Linked DNA regions of Homo sapiens. The protein of the gene in region 1 purifies or fractionates together with the protein of each later gene. This does not show direct contact. Each region holds a gene or a part of one and is shown in the gene's direction. Other genes may lie near its edges.

Region 1 (3,500 bases):
GTACCCTTAAGAGTCTGAGACTGCGGTGGGCAGTGGGGAGAGGGCAGACATGGGGGCCAAAGGCAGGAGCTGCCCCGGGCAATCTGGTGGTCCTCCTAGGGCAGAACTCCCTACCGCCCCTGTCCACCAGGTGGGTCTGCTGATGGTGTGTCAGAAACCAGGCCTAGGGTTTAAGAGCTCCCAGACCCATTAACCTCTCCCTGTTTTCATTCAGTCTTTCTTCTTCTTCTTTCTTCTTCTTCCTTCTCCTTCTTCTTTTTTTTGAGACAGAGTCTAACTCTTGTCCAGGCTGGAGTGCAGTGGTGCGATCTCGGCTCACTGCAACTTCTGCCTCCCAGGTTCAAGCGATTCTTCTGCTTCAGCCTCCCAAGTAGCTGGGATGACAGGCGTGCGCCACCATGCCCAGCTAATTTTCTGTATTTTTAGTAGAGATGCGGTTTCACCATGTTGGCCAGGCTGGTCTCGAACTCCTGACCTCAAGTGATCTGCCCACCTCAGCCTCCCAAAGTGCTGGGATTACAGGCATGAGCCACCGCTCCCAGCCTGTGTCTTTCATTAGCAGAGATTTCCTGGGCACCTCCAGCATGCCCAGCACTCTGTTAGGCACTGGGGACCCAGCCACCAACAAGACACGTAGGGCTGGGCACTCATGGAGATTAAAGTCCAGTAACTTTAATCTGGACTTCAAAGCATCGCTTCTGATATGAGGTTACAGAAAAAAAAAAAAAAAATCAACGAAGCAACTGGTTTCTGGGAGCAATAGTGCAGTAAGGGAAAAACATGTCACAGGGGGTGGGGCAACTTGGGGTGTCAGGCAAGGCCTCAAAAGGAGGTGAACCCCCCAGCTGAGGCCTGAGAGATGAAAAGGAACAAGCTGCCGGGCGCGGTGGCTCATGCCTGTAATCCCAGCACTTCGGGAGGCCGAGGCGGGCAGATCACTTGAGGTCAGGAGTTCGAGACCAGCCTGGCCAACATGGTGAAACCCCGTCTCTACTAAAAATACAAAAAATACAAAAAAAAAAAAAAAAAGTCCAGACACGGTGGCTCACGCCTGTAATCCTAGCACTTTGGGAGGCCAAGATGCATGGATCACCTGAGGTCAGGAGTTAAAGACCAGCCTGGCCAACATGGGAAAACCCTGTCTCTACTAGCTATACAAAATTAGCCAGGTGTGGGCTGGGCACGGTGGCTCATGCCTGTAATCCCAGCACTTGGGGAGGCCGAGGCGGGCGGATCACGAGGTCAGGAGATCAAGACCTTCCTGGCTAACATGGTGAAACCCCATCTCTACTAAAAATACAAAAAATTAGCCGGGCGTGGTTGCAGGTGCCTATAGTCCCAGCTACTCGGGAGGCTGAGGCAGGAGAATGGCCTGAATCCAGGAGGCGGAGCTTGCAGTGAGCTGAGATCAGGCCACTGCACTCCAGCCTGGGCGACAGAGTGAGACTCCATCTCAAAAAAAAAAATTAGCCAGGTATGGTGGTGGGTGCCTATAATCCCATCCACTAGGGAGGCTGAGGCAGGAGACTGGCTTGAACCCTAGGGAGGCTGAGGCAGGAGAATTGCTTGAACCCTAGGGAGGCTGAGGCAGGAGAATTGCTTGAACCCGGGAGGCGGAGGTTGCAGTGAGCTGAGACTAAGCCACTGCACTCCAGCCTGGGTGACAAAGCAAAACTCTGTCTCAAACGATGAGGAAAAAGCTAGGTGTGGTGGCGCATGCCTGTAATCCCAGCTACTTGGGAGGCTGAGGCAGGAGAATCACTTAAAGCTGGGAGGCGGAGTTTGCAGTGAGTTGAGATAGCGCCACTGCACTCCAGCCTGGGCAACAGATTGAGACTCTATCTCAAAAAAAAAAAAAAAAAAAAAAAAAAAAAAAAAACCAAGGCTGGACGTGGTGGCTCACAATCCCAGCACTTTGGGAGGCAGAGGTGGGTGGATCACCTGAGTTCAGGAGTTCGAGACCAGCCTGGCCAATGTGGTAAAACACCGTCTCTACTAAAAATACAAAAATTAGCTGGGCATGGTGGCGGGGGCCTGTAATCCCAGCTTGAACCCGGAAGGCGGAGGTTGCAGTGAGCCAAGATTGCACCACAGCACTCCAGCCTGGGCAACAAGAGCGAAACTCCGTCTCAAAAAACAAAAAACAAAAACCCTAGAAAAGCCCCTGGCCCACCTAGGAGCCAGAGTGTAGGGAGAAAAGTGGGAGGGAGGTCCAGCCCCTTCACACACCCTCCCACACCCACTTTGGTCTCCGTGCTACAGCCACACAGCCCCCTCCCCACACATCTTGTCTAGGCCGCCTCCCCCTATCCCAGGGCCTTTGCATCTGCCGCCCCTGCAGCCTAGAGCCCCATCTCCCCCATTCTTCACGTGGTTCCTTCTGTTCATTCCGTTCTCTTCAATGTCACCTCCTTGGCAAGGCCTTGCCCCATGTGACCGTTCACCCATTTCATACCTCCACTGCCAGCATGGGAGGGCAGGGGCCCTTTCTGTCTCATCCACCAGAATTTCATGAATTAAGCCCATTTCTTGGCTGGGTGTGGTAGCTCATGCCTGTAATCCCAGCACTTTGGGAAGCCAAGGTGGGAAGATCACTTGAGGCCAGGAGTTCAAGACCAGCCTGGGCAACACAGCAAGACCCTGTCTCTACAAAAAAATCAAAGAAATGAAAGAACTTATTATTATTATTATTATTATTATTATTATTATTATTATTTTGAGACAGAGTCTTACTCTGTCACCCAGGCTGGAGTGCAGTGGCACGATCTTGGCTTACTGCAACCTCCACCTCCTGGGTTCAAGCAATTCTCCTGCCTCAGCCTCCTGAGTAGCTGGGATTATAGGTGCGTGCTACCACGCCCAGCTAATTTTGTATTTTTAGTAGAGGCAGGGTTTCTCCATGTTAGCCAGGCTGGTCTTGACCTCCTGGCCTCAAGTGATCCACCCACTTTGGCCTGCCAAAGTGCTAGGATTACAGACGTGAACCACCACACCAGGGCTTTTTTTTTTTTTTTTTTTTTTTAGCCCATTTCTTTTGGCCTGTCATCTGGGGAAGGCCAAGCGTAGTAGATTAGTAGCCAAAGACGCTTCGGCCCTGGAGCAAGACTTCCCAGGTTGGAACCCCAGCTTTGTGGACTATGTAGCTGTGTGAGTTTGCTCACTTGAGTTAATTCCTCTGTGCCTCAGTTTCCCCATCTGTAAAATGGGGGTAAATGTGCCCAGCACCTGGCAGGGCCTGGCTCCTCATGGGCTCAATAAATGTTTGAAAGAAGGAAAGGGCCAGGCGTGGTGGCTCACACCTGTAATCCCAGAACTTTGGAAGGCCGAGGTGGGCAGATCACTTAAGGTCACAAGTTCGAGACCAGCCTGACAAACATGGTGAAACCCCATCTCTACTAAAAATACAAAATTAGCAGGGCATGGTGGCGCTTGCCTATAATCCCAGCTACTCGGGAGGCTGAGGTGGGAGAATCGCTTGAACCTGGGATGTTGAGGTTGCA
Region 2 (3,500 bases), on another chromosome or scaffold:
TGAGCTCAGCTGCACCCTGAGCCCTGGTACCTTTTTCACTGTTTTCCCAGGGCCTCCTGGCTTCCCTGTGGGCCTCTGAGAAAGGTTTCTGGAACTCCCACCACCCCCACTACAGTCCCAGCCAGAGCAATTGCATGGCCGGCCCAGATTGATATCCTGGATCTCTGCTTTTGATTAAAAGGTTTACTGCTTTTAAAAATAATCATAATGTAAAAATCACTAGGCTAGGAGATCTTGAAAGTTCCTTAAGGTTCTAAAACTTGTGACTGACAGGTGATTAGAAATATGTGACAAGGCCGATATGTGGTAAGGACAGTTTTTAGTAGTCTGTCCTTACTGAGTGATGTCATGATGTACTTTTTGTAACCTTAAGAATGGTGTAAACAGTTTTCCTCAGTACTTGATTGACAAAGAATGCTTTTCTCTGCTGTAGAAATATCAGATTTGGGACAGGGTCCAGGCCTCTAAATTGATCTGCATTCTCCTGCCTGCTTTCCCTCCCTGGTTTCTGGAAAGGTAGCTCTCATGTCTGCTTCAAAGGCAAACAAGCCTTAATAGGACTGGATAAAAAGCAAGTGTAATTGTTTTCAATTACTTCATTCATAAATGCTCACTCCTGAGAGTGTCATTTTTTAAACAAAACATTTACACCAGCTCTTCCAGAGAGATGAAAGCACATTTGCTTCCTCAAAATCTGCTTTAAATATTAAAACTTTTCTCTATGGTTTATGGAAGCAATTGCCTCACTTTTGCTCCAAGATCAAACCAACAGTTCTGGTTTATCTATCAACAAATATGCCTAATTACACCTCAAAGAAAGCACAGAGCATTTTACCCTACCTTGAAAGGCAGTTGTATGTCTTTTTTTTTTTTTTAACAAAATGTAATGTTTTAGAATGTAGCATGTGAGAGATCCACCTTTTAATGGTGTTTTCCTCACTGTCCATTTGATGCATTCTCCAATGCACCAAGTATCAGATGGTAAGTTGAAAGCCCTCTTCTTGTCTGTGGTCCCTTTCTGCATAGGTGCATGCCCTTTAGCCCTCACCATCCCTGGCCGCCTGTGGGCTGAAGCTGGAAGAGCAGGACCTGGCCTCAGGACATGCTCTTAGCTTGCTCTGGGCATGGGCTTCAACAGCCTATCATTGCTGGTCCCTCTGCTTCTTTTTCCACCACCTTCTCAGAATCTGCTTCTGAAGTTGCTGGGTGTCCTGCCTGGGGTGGGTGCTGCTTCCCTACTGCACACTACAGTCACACCCTAGGCCTCTTACCATGTCCCCCCGCCCACCACCTGCTCCCTCCTCTCAGCCAACACAGAGGAGTGCTCAGAGCATGCCCACCGTGCCATCTCCGTTCATACAGTTCCACCTTGAAGCTTCAAGCATCTGGAGGCTCCTTCTCGTCTGCCACATCTGTTCATCACTTTTGATTCCTTCCTGTCATGCCTGTTCCACCTCTTCATCCCACCTTTTCCCCATCCCAGTCAGGCTGCCTTCATGAGGTTCCTTAGGTAGCAGAGTAATTCACGCTACTCATGTCTTTTCCTGACTGGTCCCCGCTACTGCACTTACTGAGAAAGTATCATATTGTCCAGGAAGTTGAGACACCGCCTACTGCATCTGCCCACACACCCCCTGCACAGCCTCGGCAGGAGCTCTGTGACTGTTTCTGAACTCATGCAAGGAGAAATTTTCTGTACCCCACTGTTGATACACCTGGGGTTCCAGGCACATGGTTTGGCCAATGCTGCCTTGAGTGGTGCAGGCTCTCTGGAAGGATGTGTGTGCTGTTGTAGGTCAGGCCTCCTGGATGACCGGGCCTCTGCCACTAACACTTCTTGCCAGTCCCCATGGGATCTCGTGGAGGCTCACGCCCTTTTGCTCTGCTGTTTGTCCACTCATTTTGGCTTCCATGTTGGGCCTTCTTTCCCAGTATCCCAGCTCCGTCCTCACTCTTCCTATTGCTCTTGTTCGTTCACACTGTGACTGAGGCCTGATGCATGCCCCAGTCACTGTCACTCCTGTGAGTCAGAGGGACAGAGGCTGGATAGGCTGTGTCTGACAGTGGACTGCTGCCCTTGCCAGGCACCCACTCCTAATGGCCAGTGTGGGCAGGATGGTGGGGCCAAATGGTCAGCTCTTCTCAGGAGGGCTCTGCTGGCAACAGGCCTGGGAGCACCATGAGCCTGCCCCCCAGTCACCATGTGACATCTTGCTCACATTGTCGCCCCTGCTCAAGACAGGCTCAGTGGTTCTCTGGTTTCCTGCCATCTACAAGCTCTGCCAGAGAGCCTTCCTTCTGGCCAACCTCTGCCCCTGCTGTTATCACCGCCAACTACTCCTGCCATTCCCACGTTGCCCCACCTGAGTGTCTGCAGAGCTCCCAGCTGGACATCATCTCTGTCATCACAACTCTTCTTGCTTTGGCTCTCCCTTGGGTCACTTGTCACTGTCTTCCCTGTGGCATGGCAGGTGTTTTCTTTCCCTTACTATACTCTCTTTTCTGGGGCACTCTGGCTCCTCCTCATCTTCATATGTCCCAAGGTGCTGTGTAGGGCGGGCACATAGGCAGCTGCTGATGAGTAAAAATGCTGTTTCTGAGTTGTTGCTAAGTGCCTCTGTTGTTCATGCTAAGAATGGTTGGCAGGTGGTGCTGCTGAGCCAGACAAAGAAGCAGATGTTGGGCAAGTCCCAGCCCCTCAGCTGTGCTGATCTGGAGTTCACTGAGGAAGCTTTCCTTTGCTGTCTTGTCTGGAGTTAGGGGCTCTTAACTGGAGGGAGGTAGGAGAGGGTGTCCAATGAACCTCCTAAAGTTGACGCAGAATTTGGGTTATATGTGCATTTTTTATGGAAAGGGTGTCTGATTGTCAGAAGTACTTGATTCTAAAGAAGTTTAAGAATTATTAGTTTAAAACATGATTCCACATCTAACTGTCACTTGGCACACCAATCTCTGTATTTTGTTTCTCTGTTTCTGAAAGTTTGCCTCTTTTGCTCTGCATTATTGAGAACACGATCTTTAGAGTTGGGCTGACTTTGTAGAGTTATTTAGATATTTTTCTATCATGTGCTGTATCTTCATATTATTTCTTGAAATAAAACAGTCCTCAAGTGAGTCTCTGAATATGGAATTACAGCGTTGCTTCTAGGGTTAATTGTCCTGTCCTTGAATATAGATTTCATTAAATGGCTTTAGCTGAGTTGCAACCATTATGCTGTCAGATTTCTGTCCCAGGGAGACTGCCAGTAACAAATGAACCAGTACATAAGCATGTTAGGTTGTGATGAGTAATTGTGGAGAAGAAGATAGTAAGGGGTGGCAAGAGTCTTGTCCTAGTGTCCTGGCCTTTTCTTTAGTGCAGGGAGTTGCTTTTTTTATATATGCAGGGAGGAGAAGAGGCTGTCAGAAGTATGACACCTGAGCAGAGGCCTGGAGGAAGTGAGAGACTGAGCTCCGAAGCTGTCTGAGGGCAGCACCTAGGCACAGGGAGCATATCCCAA
Region 3 (3,500 bases), on another chromosome or scaffold:
AGGCATGTGCCACCACGCCTGACTAATTTTGTATTTTTAGTAGAGACGGGGTTTCTCCATGTTGGCCAGGCTGGTCTCGAACTCCTGACCTCAGGTGATCTGCCCACCTCGGCCTCCCAAAGTGCTGGGATTGCAGGCATGAGCCGCTGTTCCCTGCCAATTTTTAATTTTTTAAAGAGCCCCTATCCTGTTTTCCTTCATGGCTATACTAACTTACATTCTTTTTTTTTTTTTTTTTTTTTTTTTTAGTGAAAGGAAGTTTATTAAGAAAGTAAAGGAATAAAGAATGCCTACTCCATAGGCAGAGCTGCCCCAGGGGCTGCTGGTTGCCCCTTTTTGTGGTTATTTCTTGATCGTATGCTAAACAAGGGGTGGGTTATTCATGCCTCCTCATTTTAGACCATATAGGGTAAAATGACGTTGCCATGGCATTTGTAAACTGTCATGGTGCTGATGGGTATGTCTTTTAGCATGTTGATGCATTATAATTAGCATATAATGAGCAGCAATGACGACCAGCGGTCACTCATCACCATCTTGGTTTTGGTGGGTCTTAGCTGGCTTCTTTACCACAGCTTGTTTTATCAGCAAGGTCTTTATGACCTGTATCTTGTGCTGATCTCCTATCTTATCCTGTGACTTAGAATGTCTAACTTCTTGGGAATGCAGTCCAGTACGTCCCAGCCTTATTTTACCCAGCCCCTACTTAAGATGAAGTTGCTCTAGTTCAAACACCTGTGACATTTCCCCTCTCCCTTTTATAAAAGAACCCTTAATCCTAAGGGTTGCAGAGGGACAAAGATCCATCTTCTGTAAACTTTTTCATGCTGAATAGGGGCAATGATATTCCTGTCTAATTATTAGGGTCTCTTGTATTCAGGATAGAGAGGAGCTCAGTCAGAAAGCGTCAGGGTGAGGGTCGCTTATAACTCTGAGTTCCGACAAAAGGTGATATCCAGAGTTGGCCAATCAGTGCTGCAGTCTATTTCTTTTGGGTCGGGAGGATCTCCTCAGTATTGTCCCTTCCATGGTTTGCCAGAAAGATGTTACTGCAAAGGGGCCCTGATCCAGACCCCAAGAGAGGGTTCTTGGATCTTGTGCAAGAAAGAATTCAGGACAAGTCCATAAAGTGAAAGTAAGTTTATTAAGAAAGTAAAGGAATAAAGAATGGCTACTCCATAGGCAGAGCAGCCTATACTAATTTATATTCTCACCAGCAGTATACCAAGATTTCCTTTTCTCCGCATCCTCACCAACACTTGTTATCTTTTATCTTTTTGATAATAACCATGCTAACAGATATGAAGTGATACCTCATTGTGATTTTGATTTGCATTTTCCTGATGATTAGTGATGTGGAGCATCTTTTCATAAACTTGTTGGCCATTTGTATGTTTCTGGAAATATGTCTATCCAGGTCTTTTGCCCATTCGTAATCAGAGGTTTTTTTTTTTTTTTTTTGCAATTGAATAGTGTGAGTTCCTTATATATTGTGATGATTTTTTTGTGTGTATGGTAAAGCCTAATGTAAAATTTACCAATTTAACCGTGTGTGTGTGTGTGTGTGTGTGTGTGTGTGTGTGTGTGTGTTTGTATTTTTTTTATTTTTTATTTTTTTATTTTTTGGAGACAGGATCTTACTCTGTTGCTCAGGCTGGAGTACAGTGACATCATCCCAGCTCACTGCAGCCTCAACCTCCCAAGCTCAAGTGATATTCCCACTTCAGCCTCCTGGGTAGCTGGGACTATAGGCATGTGGCACCATGCCTGGCTAATTTTTGTATTTTTTGTAGAGATGAGATTTCGCCATGTTGCCCATGCTGGTCTTGAACTCCTGAGCTCAAGCAATTCTCCTGCTTCAGCCTCCCAAGGTGCTGGAACTACAGGCGTGAGCCACCACACCTGGCCTTTTTGAACCATTTTTAAGTGTAGAGTTCAGTGACATTTAATACATTCACGTTGTGTACAACTATCATCATTATTCATCTCTAGAACTTTTTCATCACCCCACATTGAAAACTGTGTACCCCATTAAATAATAACTCTGTTTCTCTCTCCCCTCAGCCTCTGGTAACCACTAGTCTAATTCCCGTCTCTATGAATTTGACTATTCTACGTACCTTTTATAAATGCAATCATACAATATTTATTATTTTATGTCTGGCTCGTTTCACTTAGTATAATATCTTCAGGTTCATCCATGTTGTAGCATGTGTCAAAATTTCTTTCCTTTTTAAGGCTAAATAATATTCCATTGTATGTATGTATACACACACAGCACACATACACACACACACAGCACACACATACCACATTTTGTTTATCCATTTTTTTATTTGTGAACACTTAGGTGGTTTCCACTTTTGGCTGTTGTGAATAATGTTGCTATGAACATTGATGTACAGATATCTATAGTAGAAGTATCTGCTTTCAGTTCTTTTGGGTATATATCCAGAAGTGGAATAAGTGGATCATATGATAATTCAGTGTTTAATTTTTTGAGGAACCACTGTACTGTGCCCTACAATGGCAGCACCATTTTACATTTCTACAAGCAATGCACAAAGTTTCCAATTTCTCTACATCCTTGCCAACACATGTTATTTTCTTATTTTCTTGCTTTCTCTGTTTTTGATAATAGTCATCCTATTGGGTATGAAGTGGTATCTCATTGTGGTTTTGATTTGCATTTCCCTGATTATTAGTGATATTGACTGCATATGTAATTTTATAAGATATTGCCAAATCCCTCTCTAAAAGGAAATGTTGCATTCTTTTTTTTTTGTTTGTTAGTTAAGCAATTATTTTATTGCTCAAGTACATAGACAAATTTATGCAACCAGGGCAGAGGCTGTATATGATTCATATTTCCAGTTGGGAGAGAGGACTCACTTGGTCTTATAATATCGAGCCAAACAGTGAATCCGGCTCTCTATCAGAATCAGACAGAATTTAGCATCCTCATCCTTTCTCTTCCTCTCAAGAAGCTTTTGAACAGCAACTGCTGCCTTAATTAAATGGTAGAGATCTTCAGGGAGATTAGGAGCGGTCCCTTAGACTTAAGAATTCTTAAGATTTTATTGCCTGTCACAAATCGTACTTGTGCAGCATCATGTGAATCTCTCAGGATCCCACCGATTTGTGAAGGAGTCAGGCCCTTCTTGGCCAGTTTTTAAATCTGCTCCTTCATGTCGTCAGATGTCAACTTCAGCCCCTACTTCAGCAACCCCACTTCAGTGGGGATGCTGCAGCGATAGAGCAAAGCTGACTGAGACAGACCCTTCCCAGAAGCGTGCATGTGACCCATGATGGCAGCTGTCAGGCAGCAAAAGGAACATTCTTACTAACGATGCATGAGTACCTATTTCTTCATAGCCTTTCTTAACAGCATATATAGTCACAATTTTAAATTTTTATCAGATAGATGAGAAGTGGTATTTCAGTATAGTTTTAATTTCAGTTTGTTTGTTTGTTTATTTATTTATTATCTTTGAGACGGA
Region 4 (2,632 bases), on another chromosome or scaffold:
TGGGTTTTTGCCAAGCCTCCTCCATCTCCCATCAGTGCTGTGGGCTGGCTGCAAGCCTCGAAACAGTTCTCCTGGAAGGGAGGTTTTTGCTTTACCCCCGCCAGCACTTCCGCACACAATCATAGAGAACCTCTCTGCTCTCTGCTGGCCTACAGCTTGTCTGTTTCTCAAGCAGAGGCAGGAAGAGCTAGTCTTAGCATTTATATTTTAATAGGAAGTTGACTCCCAGCATGTAAAAGTGATCCACGCAGCCGGAGTGTATGCCGGGAGCTAAGTGGTCTATGGGTGAACATATCCCACCTTGCTTCCTGAGTCCTTGGTCCCAATCTTCTCATTTGTTCCTCTCGTTTTAAATTTTTTCCCCCCAACTCTTTTGATGTAAGAGTTCAGTTTGTCTTCGGGAGTGGGTCTCTGCAAGGGCTCTGGGATGAGTCTTGGCTTCCAAGAGGACAGGCTATTAGGTTCTTGGACTTTTTTCTGTGCTACCGCTGCTGCTTGGTGGAAGTAACAGGACGTGGATTCTGCCTCATAAGTGGCAGTTTCCCTTTTCTCTCTGACTTGTCCTAGGCCGATTTCTCTATGGCTTCCCTGAGAAAGGTGAGGCCCAAAGGAGAGAGGCCTTCAAACTGTCCCAGGTCCTGCGCAGCTCAGTGCGTATCTTCTTGCTTCCATGTGTCTTTTCCCCTGCTGCCTCACTCCCCACCCCCACTTGCCAGGTGTTTGAGCCATTTCTACACCAAAGCAAAGTACGGCCTCAGGAGGGAGTAAAAAGGGTGCCATCTGTGTCTGGAGGGGCAGCTGTGTTCATGCCCTGTGCTACTGGACATTTCACAATTCTGGCACCTTGCGATTGGTCAGTCAACCTCAGAAAGTAACTATCTTGAAGGTTTGAAAAACAACCAAAGAAAGGGAGTGAGGACTATGGCTGCATGTCCTCTGCTTGCCCGGCTGCAGAGCAGAGATGTGCAGCCCTCTGGTCAGCTGGTCCAGGCTGGTCCCCGCCGGTCCCCTTCCAGTCCAGCCACCAAGAGTCCACTTGTCCCGGGCTTCCACCTGGCTGACAGGAAGAATTTCTGAGAGCTGGATGTGCATGCCCTGTGGACGAAGGTACAGCTCGCCTGCCTGCCCCAATCCCAGCCCCGACAATCACATGCAGCTGACTCGGACACTGGCCTTGGGAACAATGTTCGAGAGAACACTTGCCCCTTGACTGTAGGAGCCAGAAGGGGACCCAGGTGTGCATAGCTCTCTGTAGACATTTTTACCCAAACCTGTTGGTAAAGTGCCCATCTGGTGCTCAAGAGAGCCTGGGGGTCTAACAGGGAGCCCGGCTGCCTCACCTGGCCACAGCCTCCACACCAGATCTCCACATTGTCTTGATCCAGACCAGCTCTGTGATCAGAAGGAAATTGGGTCCAGTGTAGGAGAGAGCTGGTCCTGGGCCTGGCAGGCAAGAGTGTGGGCATCCTTTCCTGGCCTTTCTCCACTCTCCCTCAAGCCTGTGCTCAGGTTGCCTTGAATGTGGACTCTGGAAGAGCCAGGGGCCCAGAATGCCGGGGGAGGCTTCTGAGTGGCACTCATGGAACACCGTCCCTCTGCCAGCCATAGGCCCTGCCTCCAGTGTCAGGGAATGGAGGCTGGGCTGCGAGAGTGTTGCTGCCCCCTGTGTCATTCTTCTAATCCAATGTAGAAATTGTACGTAATGTATTTAAATCAACGCAAATGTATGAATAACAAATACAGTTCTGACCTTTTTTGTCCAGTTTCTTTGGGGGAAGGAAGACAAAGAAGGTAGGAACGGAATTTTGAGGGCAAAGAAACCTGTGTTTCCATGGAATTGCTGAGACGTGGCTCCTGGGGCTATTTCTCCCTAATAAAGGATGATCCAGGTCCTCATTTCCAAAGTCCCAATGCTCTGAAAACCAAAAGTATTTTCATAACCCATTTGAAACCAAACCTGACCTGAACTTACACTGATAGGAAGCTATGGGTAATTATGATGTGTTCCTTTTAGTGTGATTCTTTGTTGCAGAAATGTCAATATATTTTATGACATGGTTCCCTACTAGGGATTATACAGTATTTGCTGACTACTTCCTAAGAGCCAAAAATAAAAAATCTGAATTCCAAAATAATCTAGTGCCAAGGGCTTGGGATAAGAAATGTGGACCTACAGGCTGGGTGCAGTGACTCACACCAGTAATCCCAGCACTTTGGGAGGCTGAGGTGGGTGAATTGCTTGAGGTCAGGAGTTTGAGACCAGCCTGGCCAACATGGCGAAACCTCGTCTCTACTAAAAATACAAAAATTAGCTGGGTGTGGTGGCACACGCCTGTAATCCCAGCTACTTGGGAGGCTGAGGCAGGAGAATCACTTGAACCCGGGAGTTGGAGGTTGCACTGAGCCGAGATTGCACCACTGCATTCCAGCCTGGAGTAAGACTTTGTCTCTCAGTAAATAAAAATAAATAAATAAATAAATAAACAATAAAATAAAAAAGAGGACCTACCTGACTCAAGGTAGTAGTGGTTCCTCCTCTTGGCCACCAGAGGGCAGCCCTGCCCTGTGTACATCACTGCCCCACTTCAAACCCTGAATAATCAAGCATATAGGGTGGGTGGAGAGGGAGAAG
Region 5 (4,143 bases), on another chromosome or scaffold:
GGATAAAAATGAAAAGGAAAAAAGTGAAAATGGTGGGGCTGGGGAGCTAGATGGAGAACACAGCCACGGAAAAGGCCTTAGGGTTGAGGCAAGTTGGAAAGAAAGCTCTAGTAGCTGGGGCTGAGTCAGCAGGGGAGAGAGTGGTAGAAGAAATCTATGGGGTAGGTCAGGGCCAGACCACCAGGGCTTCAGTAATTTGAGTAAAGATTTAGGAATTATTATTATTATTATTATTATTATTTTTCTGAGAGAGTTATGAGAGGGTTATAAGTGGGGGAATGATGTAGTCTGATTATATATTTACCTTTACCTCACTTATCCTGATTTCATTAGTTGCTTACTTACCCATGTCCCTGCCCGATTGCACAAGTCTGGATTTTTGACGTCCCTAGTATATTGAGTCATGTCCCATCAGCTCAATATGTTAGTAATAACTGGTTGAATTGAATTAGCTTTTTTTTTTCAATCTTTTTTTCCTTAAGAAACAGGGTCTTGCTCTGTCACCCCGGCTGGTGTGCAGTGGCACAATCATAGCCTCCAACTGCTGGGCTCAAGCAACCCTCCTGCCTCAGCCTCCTGAGTAGCTGGGACTACGGTCAGGTACACAAGGCCTGACTATATTTTTTGTTCGTTTTTTTTGCAGAGAGGGAGTCTTGCTATGTTGCCCAGGTTGGTCTCAAACTCCTTACCTCAGGTGATCCACTTGCCTTGGCCTCCCAAAGTGTTGGGATTACAGGCGTGAGCCACTGTGCCTGGCAAGAAATGAATTTTTATTTTTATTTTTGAGATGGAGTTTTGTTCTTGTTGTCCAGGCTAGAGTGCAATGGCTTGATCTCGGCTCACTGCAACCTCCACCTTCCAGGTTCAAGCAATTCTTCTACCTCAGCCTCCTAAGTAGCTGGGATTACAGGCGCCCGCCACCACCCCCAGCTAATTTTTGTATTTTTAGTAGAGTCGGGGTTTCACCGTGTTAGCCAGGCTGGTCTTGAACTCCCGACCTCAGGTGACTGGCCTACTCGGCCTCCCAAAGTGCTGGGGTTACAGGCACGAGCCACCATGCCCGGTCAAGAAATGAATTTTTAAACGCTGCCATACAAAACACTATGCTGAGATCATCCACTTCCCCATGAACCCTGTCATGAGCTGCAAGATACAGACCACCACTGCCTCCTTGGAAGTTACTGAATTCTTAGACCAGAAGAGGAGTTAATGAAGTACTAGGCAAGCTTACTCATGTTTGTATGGTTTAATGATTAACAGCAGAAGTCAACAGCCCGATTTAACGCATGTGGGTGCTTGACACAGAGCCTGCTATATAGTATTCTCCAAAAACCTCAGCTAGTGCTATTACTGCATATGATGTAGGTTTAGTTTTCCAAGTTCTTCCGTGGCCCTTTTTGCTTATTATATCAATCCTTGGTGGGAGATAGAGGAAGCATTTTTAGTGCTATTTTACAACTGAGGAAATAGAGGTTTGAAGAGAACTCAGGAACTCTCAGGGTTACCCAGCATTGTGAGTGACAGAGCCTGGATCTGAACGTAAGTCTGCTCCAGACTTCTGTTTCCTGAAGCATTCTCTTGAAGTCCCTTGGTAAGGAGGTGTAGTCTGAAGCATGTTGTACAGGAGCATGAAAGGTTAGGCACAGTGATTCACATTCACTCTCAATTTCTCTTGCTAATGGCAAACTTGGCAATATGACTGTTAAGGCTAGGGATAAGTCGTTGTGGCCACTGAGTAGGAAAAGCTCCACGTCCACCAGAGGCCCAGTTTACTCTGAAAAGCAAGTGCATCTCTGCCACTGGAAGGCTGGCATTTGCTCTCGTGCTGCCATTGAGCCACGCTGGTTCTCTGCTTCCAGTTTCCTTTTCTTTTCTTTTTTTTTGTTTTGTTTTTTGAGACGGAGTCTTGCTCTGTCGCCCAGGCTGGAGTGCAGTGGCGCGATCTCGGCTCACCGCAAGCTCCGCCTCCCGCGGGTTCACGCCATTCTCCTGCCTCAGCCTCCCGAGTAGCTGGGACTACAGGCGCCAGTGACCACGCCCGGCTAATTTTTTGTATTTTTAGTAGAGACGGGGTTTCACCCTTTTAGCCAGGATGGTCTCGATCTCCTGACTTCGTGATCTGCCCGCCTTGGCCTCCCAAAGTGCTAGGATTACAGGTTTGAGCCACCGCGCCCGGCCCTGTTTCCTTTTTGTTTGTTCCCCTGATACCCTGTATCAGGACCAGGAGTCAGTTTGGCGGTTATGTGTGGGGAAGAAGCTGGGAAGTCAGGGGCTGTTTCTGTGGACAGCTTTCCCTGTCCTTTGGAAGGCACAGAGCTCTCAGCTGCAGGGAACTAACAGAGCTCTGAAGCCGTTATATGTGGTCTTCTCTCATTTCCAGCAGAGCAGGCTCATATGAATCAACCAACTGGGTGAAAAGATAAGTTGCAATCTGAGATTTAAGACTTGATCAGATACCATCTGGTGGAGGGTACCAACCAGCCTGTCTGCTCATTTTCCTTCAGGCTGATCCCATAATGCATCCTCAAGTGGTCATCTTAAGCCTCATCCTACATCTGGCAGGTAAGTGAGTAGGTGCCCTGGGCGGGAAGAAGGGAGTAGAGGGGGGTTAGAAGCCAGAGAATGGGGTAGGGGAAGGGGAGGGGATGGTGGTGGTGGATTAATGTAGATGTTCTTTGGGTACCGTTGTATGGCTATGAGTTAACTAGTGAGCAGGACCAGAATAAAGTTTTAGGCCAAAGAAATTGCTTAACTGCTGTGAATTACAACATTCATGGCTAAATGAACAAGGCAAGATGCAGCACAGTGTGTCACAGGCTGCCCTTTGTGTTTAAACAAAAAGGGTGTGGTTAGATGTATATGCATAGACACATGTATATAGGAAATAGTGACAGTGGGTAATGTGGGATGGGGGCAGAGGGTGGGAGGTGGAGGGAGAGTTAATCCTTATTGTATTTTTTTGTGCCTTCCGATTTTTTTCAGCCACATTCAATTCTCTTTCTTTCTTTCTTTCTTTCTTTCTTTCTTTCTTTCTTTCTTTCTTTCTTTCTTTCTTTCTTTCTTTCTTTCTTTCCTCTCTCTCTCTCTCTCTCTCTCTTCATGAGGTCTCACTCTGGAGTGCAGTAGGGCAATCTTTTTTTTTTTGAGACAGAGTCTCACTCTGTCGCCCAGGCTAGAGTTCAGTGGCGTGATCTCGGCTCACTGCAGCCTCCGCCTCCTGGGTTCAAGCAATTCTCTGCCTCAGTCTCCCAAGTAGCTGGGATTACAGGTACCTGCCACCACTACCAGCTAATTTTTTTGTATTTTTAGTAGAGACAAGGTTTCCCCATCTTGGCCAAGCTGATCTTGAACTCCTGACCTTGTGATCCACCTGCCTCGGCCTCCCAAAGTGCTGGAATTATAGGCGTGAGTCACCGCGCCTGGCCTAGTTGGGCAATCTTGATTCACTGCAACCTCGACCTCCTGGGCTCAAGTGATTCTCCCACCTCAGTCTCCCAAAGTGCTGGGATTATAGGCGTTAGCCACCACATCTGGCCTAAGTATTTTATTTTGAAATAAACACTTTAATTCAAAACATTCTATGAGATAAGGAAAGAGTAAAATAGACATATCCTAATTTTTAAACACAAATTTCTGGAGTGATATATGCCTTTGGGATTATGGGGGAAAAATAATCTCTCATTATATACTTCTATAACCAAATTGTAATAGCATGCATTATATGTGTAATCCAAAAAAATGATACTAGTATTAGGCAAAATTAAACAAGAATTTCTTGGTGGCCGGGCGTGGTGGCTCACACCTGTAATCCCAGCACTTTGGGAGGCCAAGGCGGGCAGATCACGAGGTCAGGAAATCGAGACCATCCTGGCTAACATGGTGAAACCCCGTCTCTACTAAAAATACAAAAAAATTAGCCGGGCGTGGCGGCGTGTGCCTGTAGTCTCAGCTGCTGGGGAGGCTGAGGCGGGAGAATGGCGTGAACCTGGGAGGCGGAGCTTGCAGTGAGCCGAGATCACACCACTGCACTCCAGCCTGGGCGACAGAGCAAGACTCTGTCTCAAAAAAAAAAAAGAAGAAATTCTTTTTAGAAAGACTTTGTCTAAAAAAAAAAATTAAAAGAATGCTAGCATAGAAAAATGC
Region 6 (3,500 bases), on another chromosome or scaffold:
CAAAAAAATAGACTAGTTGTGACCATAGCTGGGATCAGGTATGGAACTGGCAGATTAGGACTAGAAATAAAATTGTACATTTAGGAGAGAAATTTAAAAGGAAGACTGTAGAGTTCTAAATAAAACCACTTCTATAAAACATTTCATAGTACAGGATTGTAATCAGTCTTGCTTTCTCTAAGTGACATAGGATTCTGCAACTTCCTTAAAATGTTTCATGTTGTCAAAATTTTGCATGCTTGAAATAACCTAGGTGGGGACAGTTTGAAAGTGGGAATGTGAAGCAAGTAAACCTTGAAGTTCTTTCTAGTCACATCAGTGATAATCTAGAGTCATCTGTCTCTATTTAAGGCAAATTTCTGGGAGGAGATGGACTTAACTCTTTTGGATGGTGAATAAAGATGTTTAGAGTGGGAAAAAAAAGGCAAACAAAACACACACACACACACACACACACACACACACACACACACCCCAGAGATTCAGTAGCTACTCCAAGAACATATAAATAAGTGCTGTCATTTTTTTTTTAATATATGCTGTATTAGGCTGTTCTTGTGTTGCTGTAAAGAAATACCTGAGACTGGGTAATTTATAAAGAAAAGATGTTTAATTGGCCCACAGTTCTGCAGGCTGTACAAGCATGGCACGGACATCGCTCGACTTCTAGTGGGAACCTCAGGAAATTTTTACTCATGGCAGAAGGTGAAGCAGGAGCAGGCATGTCACATGGTAAAAGCAGGAGTGAAAGAGTTTTCTGTTGAGCGAGATGCCACACTTTACAACAAGCAGATCTCACAAGGACTCACTCACCATCATGAGGGCAGCACCAAGGGAGTGGTGCCAACCCATTCATTAGACATCTACCCCCATGATCTAGTCACCTCCCACCAGGCCCTACCTCCAGCATTAGGGATTACAGCTTGACATAAGATTTGAGTGGGGAAAAATACTCAAATCTCATGTCCTTCTTATATTGCAAAATACAATCATGCCTTCCTAATAGTCTCCCAAAATCTTAACTGACTGCAGCATTAATTCAAAAGTCCCAAGCCCAAGTCTCATTTGAGACAAGGAAAGTCCCTTCTACCTATGAGCCTGTAAAATAAAAAAGCAAAAACAAGTTACTTACTTCCAAGACACAAAGGGGCTATAGGCATTGGGTAAATATTCCCAGGCCTTGGGCAGCTCCACCATTGTAGCTTTACAAGGTTCAACCCCCACAGCTGTTCTCACAGGTTGTTCAGTGCCTGTAGCTTTTCCAGGCACAGGGTGTAAGCTGCCAATGAATCTACTATTCTGGAGTCTGGAGGACAATGTCCCCCTTCTCACAGCTCCACTAGGCAGTACCCTGGCGGGGACTCTGAATGGGGCTCCAACACCACATTTCCCCTCCACACTGCCCTACTAAAGGTGCTTTGTGGGGGCTCCATCCCTGCAGCAGGCTTCTACCTGGGCACCCAGGTTTTCTCATCCTCTGAAATCTAGGCAGAGGCTGCCAAGCATTCTTCGCTCTTGAACTCTGTGTGCCTGCAGGCTTAACACCACATGGAAGCCACCAAGACTTACGGCTTGCATTCTGTAAATGGCAGCCCAAGCTGTACCTCAGCCTCTTTGAGCCATGGCTGGAGCTGGAGTGGCCTGAATGCTGGGATCCCAAGGCTGCACAGGGCAGTGGGGCCCTGGGTCTGACCTATAAACCCATTCAGTCCTCCTGGGCCTCTGGGCCTGTGGTGGGAGGGGCTGCTGCAAAGGTCTCTGAAATACCTTTGAAGCCTTTTCCCCGTAGTCTTGGATATTAGCACTTGGCTCCCTTTTAGTTATGCAGATATCTGTAGCATGCGGTTGCCCCACAGCCTGCTTGAATTTCTCTCCAGAAAAAACTTTTTTTTTCTTTGCCACATGGTTAGGCTGCAAATTTTCTGAATGTTTGTGCTCTGCTTCCTGTTTAAATATAAATTCCAGCTTTAAATCATTTATTTGACCCTTCAGCTAAGATAGGCTGTTAGAAGCAGCCAGGTTACCTCTTGAATACTTTGCTGCTTAAAAATTTCTTCTACCATATATACTAGGTTGTCACTCTTTAGTGCAGAGTTCCACAGATCCCTAGGGCATGAATAGAATGCAAGTCAAGCTCTTTGCTGAGACGTAACACGTGTGACCTTTGCACAAGTTCCCAGTAACCTTCTCATTTCCATCTCAGACCTCAGCAGCCTGACTTTACTGTCCATATCACTATCAATGTTTTGGTCACAACCATTTAAACAGTCTCTTAAGAAGTTCCAAACTTTGCCTCATCTTCCTATCTTCTTCTGAGCCCTCCAAACTCTGCCTGTTTCCCAGTTCCAAAACCAGTTCCACATTTTCAGGTATCTTTATAACAACACCCCATCCTCGGCACCAATTTTCTTTGTTAGGCTCTTCTTGCATTGCTATAAAGAAATACCTGAGACTGGGTAATTTATAAAGAAAAGAGGTTTAATTGGCTCACGATTCTGCAGGCTGTACAAGCATGCACCGACATCACTCTGCTTCTGGGGAGGCCTCAGGAAGCTTTTACTCATGGCAGGAGATGAAGCAGGAGCAGGCGTGTCATATGGTTACACAGGAGCAAGAGAGAGTGGGGGCAGGTGCCACACTTTACAAACAACCAGATCTCACAAGAACTCATTATCAGGAGGACAGCACCAAGAGAGATGGTGCTAAACCATTCATTAGAAATTCACCCTCATGATCCAGTCACCTCCCAGCAAGCTCCACCTCCAACACTGGAGAATACAATTTGACATGAGATTTAGACAAGGACATATATTCAAACACATGCGTTGTGTTTCCATCTGGATTATAAATTCTTTGAAGGCAAGTGTTCATGAATTTGTATTATTTTGTCATCCAAAATGTCTAGTATAGGACTTTGTGGGCATTAAATACATGTATTGGCTGATTGAGTTTCTCGTGGTCTTCAGGATCTGTTGTTGTAAATGTTCTTTGGTTTTCAAATATATTGCAAATTCTACTATTTTTTTCCTATTTAATAAATTGGCTTCTCCTGAGATCATCGTTCCTGCTCCTGGAACACTTTTCCACCCTAAATTTTACTTTTTAAATCTTTCTTATTGTTTTTGTTTGCCTTCTGTTGCTTTACAGTGAGACTAAGGTCTACTCTCAACTTCAAAGCCCTTTTTCTGGCTTTTAATTGTGACAGTTTTCAAAATTCAAAAAGTTGAAAGAGTAGTGTAATGATCACCTTTCACTCACCTAGACCACCTAGAATCAACAGTTGTTTACATTTTTTCATACTTGTCTTATTTGTGTGTATTTATGTTTTATAGGGGTGAATGTCATGACATCTGTGGCATACTTTCACATGGTTCAGCTTGAAGCTCTTTATTGAACTATATAAACTCCCCGGCAGTCTCATTTCCTTTCTTCCAATTTTTAACAATTGTTCCACTGACATATTAGGAGGATCTCATTCTTATGACACTTTTGAAATTTCT

Evidence for each region.
Region 2: the proteins of MARCHF2 (region 1) and HADH purify together in Homo sapiens (affinity purification with mass spectrometry, with the first as the bait; one large-scale study listed by BioGRID). This does not show direct contact.
Region 3: the proteins of MARCHF2 (region 1) and ALDH9A1 purify together in Homo sapiens (affinity purification with mass spectrometry, with the first as the bait; one large-scale study listed by BioGRID). This does not show direct contact.
Region 4: the proteins of MARCHF2 (region 1) and PI4K2A purify together in Homo sapiens (affinity purification with mass spectrometry, with the first as the bait; one large-scale study listed by BioGRID). This does not show direct contact.
Region 5: the proteins of MARCHF2 (region 1) and HAVCR1 purify together in Homo sapiens (affinity purification with western blotting; one study listed by BioGRID). This does not show direct contact.
Region 6: the proteins of MARCHF2 (region 1) and TM9SF2 purify together in Homo sapiens (affinity purification with mass spectrometry, with the first as the bait; one large-scale study listed by BioGRID). This does not show direct contact.

What each region holds. Positions count from the first base shown.
Region 1 is NC_000019.10:8,426,805-8,430,304, forward strand, and holds part of MARCHF2 (E3 ubiquitin-protein ligase MARCHF2), read left to right. Parts: intron 1-3,500. UniProt on the Homo sapiens protein: E3 ubiquitin-protein ligase that may mediate ubiquitination of TFRC and CD86, and promote their subsequent endocytosis and sorting to lysosomes via multivesicular bodies.
Region 2 is NC_000004.12:108,027,889-108,031,388, forward strand, and holds part of HADH (hydroxyacyl-coenzyme A dehydrogenase, mitochondrial isoform 2 precursor), read left to right. Parts: intron 1-50; exon of another isoform or gene 51-181; intron 182-3,500. UniProt on the Homo sapiens protein: Mitochondrial fatty acid beta-oxidation enzyme that catalyzes the third step of the beta-oxidation cycle for medium and short-chain 3-hydroxy fatty acyl-CoAs (C4 to C10).
Region 3 is NC_000001.11:165,671,063-165,674,562, reverse strand, and holds part of ALDH9A1 (4-trimethylaminobutyraldehyde dehydrogenase isoform 1 precursor), read left to right. Parts: intron 1-3,500. UniProt on the Homo sapiens protein: Converts gamma-trimethylaminobutyraldehyde into gamma-butyrobetaine with high efficiency (in vitro). Can catalyze the irreversible oxidation of a broad range of aldehydes to the corresponding acids in an NAD-dependent reaction, but with low efficiency.
Region 4 is NC_000010.11:97,674,303-97,676,934, forward strand, and holds the end of PI4K2A (phosphatidylinositol 4-kinase type 2-alpha), read left to right. Parts: 3' UTR 1-2,132; downstream 2,133-2,632. UniProt on the Homo sapiens protein: Membrane-bound phosphatidylinositol-4 kinase (PI4-kinase) that catalyzes the phosphorylation of phosphatidylinositol (PI) to phosphatidylinositol 4-phosphate (PI4P), a lipid that plays important roles in endocytosis, Golgi function, protein sorting and membrane trafficking and is required for prolonged survival of neurons.
Region 5 is NC_000005.10:157,056,317-157,060,459, reverse strand, and holds the start of HAVCR1 (hepatitis A virus cellular receptor 1 isoform a precursor), read left to right. Parts: upstream 1-1,343; 5' UTR 1,344-1,539; intron 1,540-2,218; exon of another isoform or gene 2,219-2,504; 5' UTR 2,505-2,516; coding exon 2,517-2,562; intron 2,563-4,143. UniProt on the Homo sapiens protein: Phosphatidylserine receptor that plays an important functional role in regulatory B-cells homeostasis including generation, expansion and suppressor functions.
Region 6 is NC_000013.11:99,507,972-99,511,471, forward strand, and holds part of TM9SF2 (transmembrane 9 superfamily member 2 precursor), read left to right. Parts: intron 1-3,500. UniProt on the Homo sapiens protein: In the intracellular compartments, may function as a channel or small molecule transporter.